2 separate regions of the Homo sapiens genome follow, and region 1 is linked to region 2. A link means that fine-mapping ties the variant in region 2 to the expression of a gene that starts in the linked region. Tissue or cell type: testis. Region 2 holds a variant in brackets; the other region holds the start of a gene. All regions are shown on one strand. Distances are between the middles of the regions.

The links. PIP is the estimated chance that this variant, and not a neighbour inherited with it, causes the effect. A credible set is the group of variants that fine-mapping cannot tell apart.
Region 1: it holds the start of SCG3, and the variant in region 2 is the best candidate, but not a certain one, in a credible set for the expression of SCG3 in testis (GTEx, PIP 0.62).

The regions. Positions count from the first base shown.
Region 1 is chr15:51,679,844-51,683,971 of GRCh38, reverse strand. SCG3 (secretogranin III) reads right to left here and starts at 2,469. Exons shown (of 12, transcript NM_013243.4): 1 at 2,135-2,469; 2 at 1,403-1,455; 3 at 848-893; 4 at 538-753. The coding sequence starts at 2,216.
Region 2 is chr15:51,444,543-51,448,670 of GRCh38, reverse strand. DMXL2 (Dmx like 2) reads left to right here. Exons shown (of 44, transcript NM_001378457.1): 44 at 1-880. Among named protein-coding and RNA genes, the nearest start is that of GLDN, 100 kb to the right of the region's middle. The variant C/T (reference allele first, on the strand shown) is at 1,614.

The sequences.
Region 1 (4,128 bases), 240 kb before region 2:
AATGTCGAATAGGTAAACAGATAAATAGGTCTATAGCTAAGAGAAGTCTGGCCTAGTGATATGGGATGTTAGGATATAGATGTAATTGAAGCCACGTAAAGGTTAGGATGACCTAAGGAGAAAAGATATGGCTAGGAGGAAACACTGAAAAGGAAATAGTGGATATTTCACCTTTTTTGTGCAGGGTGGGAGGGTACTTTACTGATCTAATTATTTGAAAATTATGATATTTTGTGTGTACTCATTGTTAAAATAAATCTGAATGTTCAAATGAATTTAATACCATAAAATACAAATACTAGATTAAAAAATGTTTTCAGAGCATCACTAAAGGAATTTTTAAAGGGAAAATAAAATATGGCACTCTGTGGAGCTGGGGCTCTACATGTTATCAGTAAATATATGCTTTATCTCAATTTTGGACTTGACTAATAAAGGATTATGAATGTTTAAAAGATATTTTTAAAATATTGGACTTTCTCTTAACCCATTATAGGAAACTCCACGTTAACAAAAAGTTCTTTTTTTCTCATTTACCTTGAAATTTATGATCCAATCCACTCTTAGTAGAGTCATAATCATCGATCAGTTTTCGATTCTTGGTTGAATCAACATCTTCCACATTCAACTTATTATCAAGTGGGGAGCTTCTTATAGATTGTCTTTCTTTCTCAATTTTTTCCTTTTCTGTTATTGCCTTTAGCAGGTTCAAGTTATCAACAAAAGAATAGTTGCTCTGACCTGGCTTGTTTTCTGGAAGAATAGCCCCAAACCCAACACAGCCATTTTAGTTCAGATTCTCATAGCCTACATTATTTAAATTAACATCAATATGATTTCTTTTTACCTGGAGGATATGTTTTTTTAATCTTGTCTTCTTCTGCTTCAGCAATCTGTGAAGCAAACAGGAGATAGACTTGGTTTAAAATCATTGCTCCACTACTTACCAAGTACAAGAGCCAAATGATTTAATCTCCATGGGATTTAATTGTCTTGTTTGTAAAATGTGGATAATTCCTATTTCAGAGCACTGTTATAATAATTAAATGAGATAAAATTAAGGGTAGATGCTCAGTCAGTGTTAATTTCTTTCTCCTATAATATTGTTGAAAGAGAAATCTCTGGTAAATTAGGCAATCTTACAACAGAGTGGATGTGATGCTGAGCTTACTGGGTTATTATATAGTTACTCTATGTATTCATTATACAGAACTCAATGTAAATAACTGCTAGGGCATAGAATTTACCAAAACTAGATTTCCCGTCCTAATTTCTGTCAATTAACTATTAAGTTCCTGATGTTTGTAAATTCAAAATGACCAAAATGTCACAGCATAATTACATTAAATAATAATAACTAAATCAAAATGAAATAGCATTCATAATGTTACTTTTGACCTACCTGTTCATTCAAAGGTCTTTCTGCACTTAATTCTCTATTATGTAGAGATTTGTCTAGAATAAACACATGTGAATATAAATTTAATTGTGCGTTGAAGGACAAAATATGCCTCTTATTAAATAAAATTTTTATAAAAAGGAAAAATATTAGGAGAAATAATTTTGGATGACTATGAAACAAATGCATATTAACAAAGATTATCAAGATTATACAATAATAGTAATTATCAATATTGCCTTGTTTATTATCTTGGTGTATTTCTTGAGCTGACAGAATCACACTTTTTTTTTTTTCTGACCAGAAATTTAACATATAGTTCTAACACTAGGGTTATCAGCTATTCTCAGCTAGAGAGAGCATAATTTGGATTGGTATTATTGGCACACTAAAAGCTCTTTCATCATATACTGCATATATAATGAATAGACTGTCTGAGAAAGGTTGTAAGGCAACTAGAAAACAATCCAAGCCACTTTAGGTGAAAAAGGTTCCCTTCCCTTTTCAAAATAAGATCTTTAAAAACAACCCATATTATTGCTCTATCATTTTAAAAGTGAAGAAAAAAAATCTGTCTTCTGTCTCTAAATTCGAACTGATTTCTCTGTCCGTATTCATGGATATGATTTGATCAGAAAACGCGTCAGGGTGATTTACAGCTCACGTATTATGCCAAACTTTACCTTTTCGTGGCGAAATAAAAGGAAGGTAGGAAGAAGAAAAGTGTTCACATACCTTGGCTTCCTCCAGGTTTGGGGAAAGCTTGAATCGGGAGCACTAACACCAGAATCCAAGTGCCGGTCCCGAGGAACCCCATTCTTCCACGCTCGGCTTGGGTCACAGCCCGGCGCTGGGCTCCTGGAGCTGTAGCTTTTGTTATGAATGAAAAGGAGGAGTAAAAACAGGAAGAGCCAGGAGGGTGGGTGTGGGGCGGGAGAGGGGCCGGGACTGGGCGGCTGCAGGATCTCTGACACTCGACGGTCAAGGGATAAGCAGGGTTGGGGCGCGCGGGAGTCAAGTCTCCAGGTAGAGGGGAGCGCTGTCCGCCCTGTGGGTGCTGAAGTTCCTGTGACGCGGAGACTGCGCGCCAGGGCGTAGCTTTACTCTCGCTCCCTCCTGCAGAGGAAGTGAGGAAGGAAGCGCATGCTCCATGCACGCCAGAGGCGGGAGGGGATGGCGTCGGTGACTCCAACGCTACTCCAATCCCCCGGGAATGGAACAAAGGAGGGGCGACCGGCCAGCTGGTGTATTTTCTGTGCTGCAGTCCTAGGGTGCTCCTGGGCTCAGGGTCAGCTGGCTTGTCCTAAGCGTGACAGAATTGTCCCAACCTCTCAAGTAAATGTTACTTCAAGGGCCAAATGCCTTCTCTGCCTGTGCACCTGTCAAGGAGATTTAGATAACCTTGTGCGAGGAGTTCTGCTTCGGGATTCTTCTTTTGGGATATCTGCTCCAGAATCCCTTCCTTCCATTCACCTCCTGTACCCAAAAGGTAGATATAATTATAATCTCTTTAGAAAAGCCCTGCCTTTTGTGGTCTGTGTTGACGTATCAAGCATCCCTCAGCTCTACCGAGGCTTTTGAATTGGGAAATTCAAGGAACAGTCTTCCAAATAGTCAGATTGCTGCAATACACTCTCACTCTCTGATGCTGAAACACAACAACAACAGAAACAGTCCTGAGTAGACGAGCAGCAATGGCAAATTCTCCTTTCCCCACCAAGTGGAACCTCCCCCACTTTACACACACACACCACACAACTAAATTAGAAAAAAGAAGCTGCATTTCTGTAAAATCTTGCCCAGAATTTAATTATGCCCAAAGACCTGGCTGTTCCAGGGGGTCCTTCAAGAGAGGGGATAGTCATGAAAAGCATTTTTCATCTTTACTAAGTCAGGGAGGTGCTTCCTATGTTCTGAGAATATTCCCAGAAGCCTAAGGTTATTGTATACAAGGAACTATCAAAAGACTTTAAATGATGAAAACAAGCAACATTAATGTGAGCAGGATGCTGAGTAAGCTCTTTAGTCTCTGATTTTTAAACAGAACTTGGACCTTTTCCTCTGGACTGCGGCATGCTGGGAACCAGTCTGAATAATGACCAAAGAGAAGGATTCAGCACAATCAGGCCTTTGATTTCTGCACCCTCCTTTTCAAGGAGGAAGTTATTCAAGTACCTAAAAACAAACAAACAACCAAGCTGACAAACAAATCTCCCTTGCTCCGGAGGTTTTTGAGTTTGGAAGTCACTCAAATACTTCCTTTGAGGATCTAAAGAGTATTCTAAATCTAACAGCTCCTTCAAAACAAAAAACTCTTTATTGGCAGTAATAACATAGCATTATTATCCCAGTATACTGCATTAAAAAATTAAGTCATATTTTAAAATCCCAGCTGAATGAAGGGTATATTTCCTTAGTTTCCTTTTCTTTATGATGGAAATGACAGGCTCTGTTTACCTCACACTGTTATTATGAAGATCAAATGGGTACATGTTTTGAACTAGTCATTTTGATACCAAGAATATTTTGATACAGCCTAAGAAAATAAGTCATGAAACGTTTTCAGCTTTTATGAAACATTACCCAACGCTATCTGAAATAGCCATTCACTGATCCTGAGACTCACTGACCTAATCCCTCAGCTTCACTTTGTCCTTTGTCCCATTCCTGACTCATTTATCTCCTCAATACATGTTTGCAATTGGGAGAGATTCAGGATGGGATGAAGG
Region 2 (4,128 bases):
TATACCAAATTAAGGAAGAAAATGTTGCTGATTTGGGTTTTTCTTCCTGTTCTTACCACTGACTGAAGCATGCCTGCAGTCTCCTCCTCTGTTGAATGAAGGATAATCATAAGGTGTTTGTTAGGAGCGCTAGACCACCTGGAAAACTTTCTTAGCTGTGGAGCAGTGCGCAGTGACCAGTTCTCTGCTGTGAGAGGCCGTTTCCATTCTTTCCTGCTGAATATTTTTCCTGTTAGTGTTTATACTGAGCTAGTACTGTAACTTGCAAATGAGTGCAAATTTAAATGCAATGTTTTACTCACAATTTGCACATTCACATTTTTTGGACTGCTAGTTTTTCTATTTAAATATTTGCCTTCATGTTAGGAATGTACTATGTGAACATGACATATTTGTAGTTAACCAAACACACCTTCTTAGTCCAGTTTAGTACTTTTTCTTTTCGTGTATTCAAGGTTAAACACCCAAACATTTAAGGATATGTTGAAACTACACCAATAGAGCATTTCATATCATAATTAAAATGAATGTTAGGCTTCTTGTGGCCAGTTAATAGTTGATGAGATTGGTGACATTATTTATTGCCACAGCCTATTGTATAAACTATGCAGAGTTAAATATTTGCTTGTAAAATATTAGCCAATGTTGTCATTATTTTGATGTATTTCCTTGGTTATGACCAAAAATATGTTGAGATACTGAAACTAATGTCTGTGTGTTTAAATGTTTACCAGCAAATTGTCTTATCATGTTAATGAGAATGTTCAATGCCTGTGTGGTAAATAGTAAATACAATGGCATAAAAGTAACTTTCTCTGAAGATGTGATGTTCAGGCTGTGAAATATATATGTAAAAGAAAAATAAATGTTATTTGTTAGAGTTTTTAGTTTGATACTGTTTTTGACCATTGAGATTTTTAATTTGATAAAATGTTTAACTGTTAGAGAATTTGCAAGCTATTTGGCAGTCTATTCATTCATAAGTAAGTATTTACTGAATACCTTCTATACCAAAAGCCATTCTAGGAAATGGGATACAGTGGAGAGCCAGACAGAGAAAGCACACAATGTTGAGATTTAGCGGGGCAAGAGCTAACCTCACTATACCTTCTCCAGACAGATTTGAAGTTTATTGAATGAAGTACTAACCTCGTACCCAAAACTCAAATCTGAGTCTTGGCTATTTGCTTGCTCCTAAGTAAGTAAGGGAAGTCAGAATATGCCCACTGATAAGAAGAGCCAGGAAAATAAGCTTGTGAGTGACATCTCAATGCCTAAAGCAAAACTGATTCAAAGGAGCTTTCAGAAAAAAGGGAAGAGAACTTTCTCTGTCAGGTAAAAGCAGTAAGAGACTCTAGATTCACCTTCTAGCTTGAAACAACTAAAAGAAAGAAGACGACAAAATATATAAACAATGGTTCTCAAGACATTAAGCATCAGGTAGGGAGGGACAGTGATTCCTGAGAGGTGAGCATTTTAATTGTCCCAACTTACCACCTCAAGAAAGTTTCCAGGCCACAGGCAGGGAGAGAACCCAGGCAGAGCCTAATGGTTTCTCCAAGTTGCCAAGATGATAGAACTGCGAGTCTGGGGAATATAATGAGGATAGAGTT[C/T]GCAGGCCAAAGGCCACAGAGGGGCACAGGGAGAGGTACACAGAAGGTCTGTATTAGTCCATTCTCACACTGCTATAAGGACATACCTGAGACTAGGTAATTTATAAAGGAAAGAGATTTAATGGACTCATAGTTCCACGTGGCTGGGGAGGCCTCACAATCATGGCAGGAGGAAAAGGAGGACCAAAGGCACATCTTAACATGGCAGCAGGCAAGAAAGCGTGTGCAGGGAAACTGCCCTTCATAAAATCATCAGATCTCCTGAGACTTATTCACTATCACAAGAACAGAATGGGAAAAACCTGCCCTCATGATTCAGTTACCTCCCACTGGGTCCCTCACACAACACTTGGGGACTATGGGAGCTACAATTCAAGATGAAATTGGGTGGGGACACAGTCAAACCACATCAAGATCTTCCTCAATATTTTGCTGAGAAAGGAATCAGTGTATGTGTATGAGCAAATTGCTGGCACCCAGAACAATAGCCATCGAAAGGGATTAGAGGTAACAATCTAATCACACAAAGCTAGGAATTCAGCAGGAGGCCCCCCTTATCTGTGGCTTTGCTTTCTGTGGTTTCAGTTACCTGTGGTTAGTCATGGTCTGAAAATAGGTGAGGACAGTACAATAAGAAATTGAGAGAGGGAGAGACTATATTCACATAGGTTTTTATTACTGTATATTAATTGTTCTATTATTGTTGATCTTTTACTGTGCCTAATTTATAAGTTACACTTTTTGAGACAGAGTCTCACTGAGTCGCCCAGGCTGGAGTGCAGTGGTGCGATCTCAGCTCACTGCAACCTTTGCCTCCCGGGTTCAAATGATTCTCATACCTCAGCCTCCCAAGTAGCTGGAACCACAGGCATGTGCCACCATGCCCGGCTAATTTTTGTGTTTTTAGTAGAGATGGGGTTTCACCATGTTGGCCAGGCTGGTCTTGAACTCCTGACCTCAAGTGATCTGCCTGCCTCAGCCTCTCAAAGTGCTGGGATTACAGGTATGAGCCACCATGCCTGGCCTAAACTTTATCATATGTGTATATATAGAGAGGAAAACACATATATAGGGCTTAGTACCATCTGCAGTTTCAAGCATCCATCCACTGGAGTCTTGGAACATCTCCCTTGTAGATAAGGTGGGGGGACTACTGTAATTCATATTCTCACCAACCAGCTGGAAAACCTCATAATTCATGGGGCATTAGGTAGTACTCTCAAGGATTTTGCTGCAGTAGCAGGACAAAATTAGTCCTAGGATAAACACTATCATGGTCCTGCCTAAGAAAGCTAAAAAGGAAATGACCAAAAGCCAAATAGCTAAATTTTATCTGAAAACATAGCTCCAGAGTATTTGTAGGAATACAAAAATATCCAACACTCAACAAGGTAAAATTCACAATGTTTGACATTAAAAAAAATGCATGAAAAGTAGGTAAATACAAACCATAATGAGAGGGAAAACATACATCAAAACAGATACAGAAATAACACAGGTGATAAAATTAATAGCATAACTATTTCATATGTCCAAGAAGCTAGAGAAAAAATTCAATGTTAGGAAGAGATGTGGAAGACACACAGATTCAAATCAAACTTACAGAAATGAAAAGTATAATGTTTGAGATAAAAAAATACACTAGATGGGATTCACAGCAGATTAGACATTGCAGAGTGAAAAATTAGTGAATATGAAGGCACAATAGAAACTATCCAAAAGGAAACACTTTTAAAAAACATTGGAACCAAATAACACCAGTGAGCTCTGGGACAACTTTGAGCATCCTAATATATGTGTAATTGGAGTCCGTGAGGGAGGAGGGTAAAGGAAAAATATAATTAAAATAATGGCCAAATATTTTCCAGTTTTGATTCAACCACAGATCCAAGAGCTTTAATGAAACTCAAGCACAGGAAACAAGGAAAGTAGAGCCATACTCATCATAATCAAATTGCTTAAAATCAATGATAAGAGAAAAATGTTAGGATCACAAAGAGAAAATAGACACATTGCATACACAAGAACAAAGATAAGGATGACAGCAGATTTATTTCAGGAACAATGCAAACCAGAAGAGTGGAGTGACATCTTTAGAAGTTTTGGAAGCAAAAAAGCTGTCAATCTAGAATTCTTTGACCAGTGAAAATACCTTTCAAAAATGAAGTTTACATAAAGACATGAAAAGGGTAAAAGAATTCATCGCCAGCAAATCTGCACTATAAGAAATATCAAAGGAATATAAAGAAAGTTTCTGAATCAGAAGGCAAAATGATACCAGATGGAAATACGGATCTATTCAAAGGAATAAAGAGTACCAGCAATTATAACTACATAAGTAAATTACATAAAGACTTTTCCTCATTGTTTAAATCTCTCCTAGACAATTGTTTAAAGCATAAGTAAGGCCAGTCATGGTGGTTCATGCCTGTAATCCCAGCAATTTGGAAGGCCGAGGTGGGGCGGATCATCTGAGGTCAGGAGTTCAAGACCAGCCTGGCCAACATGGTAAAAC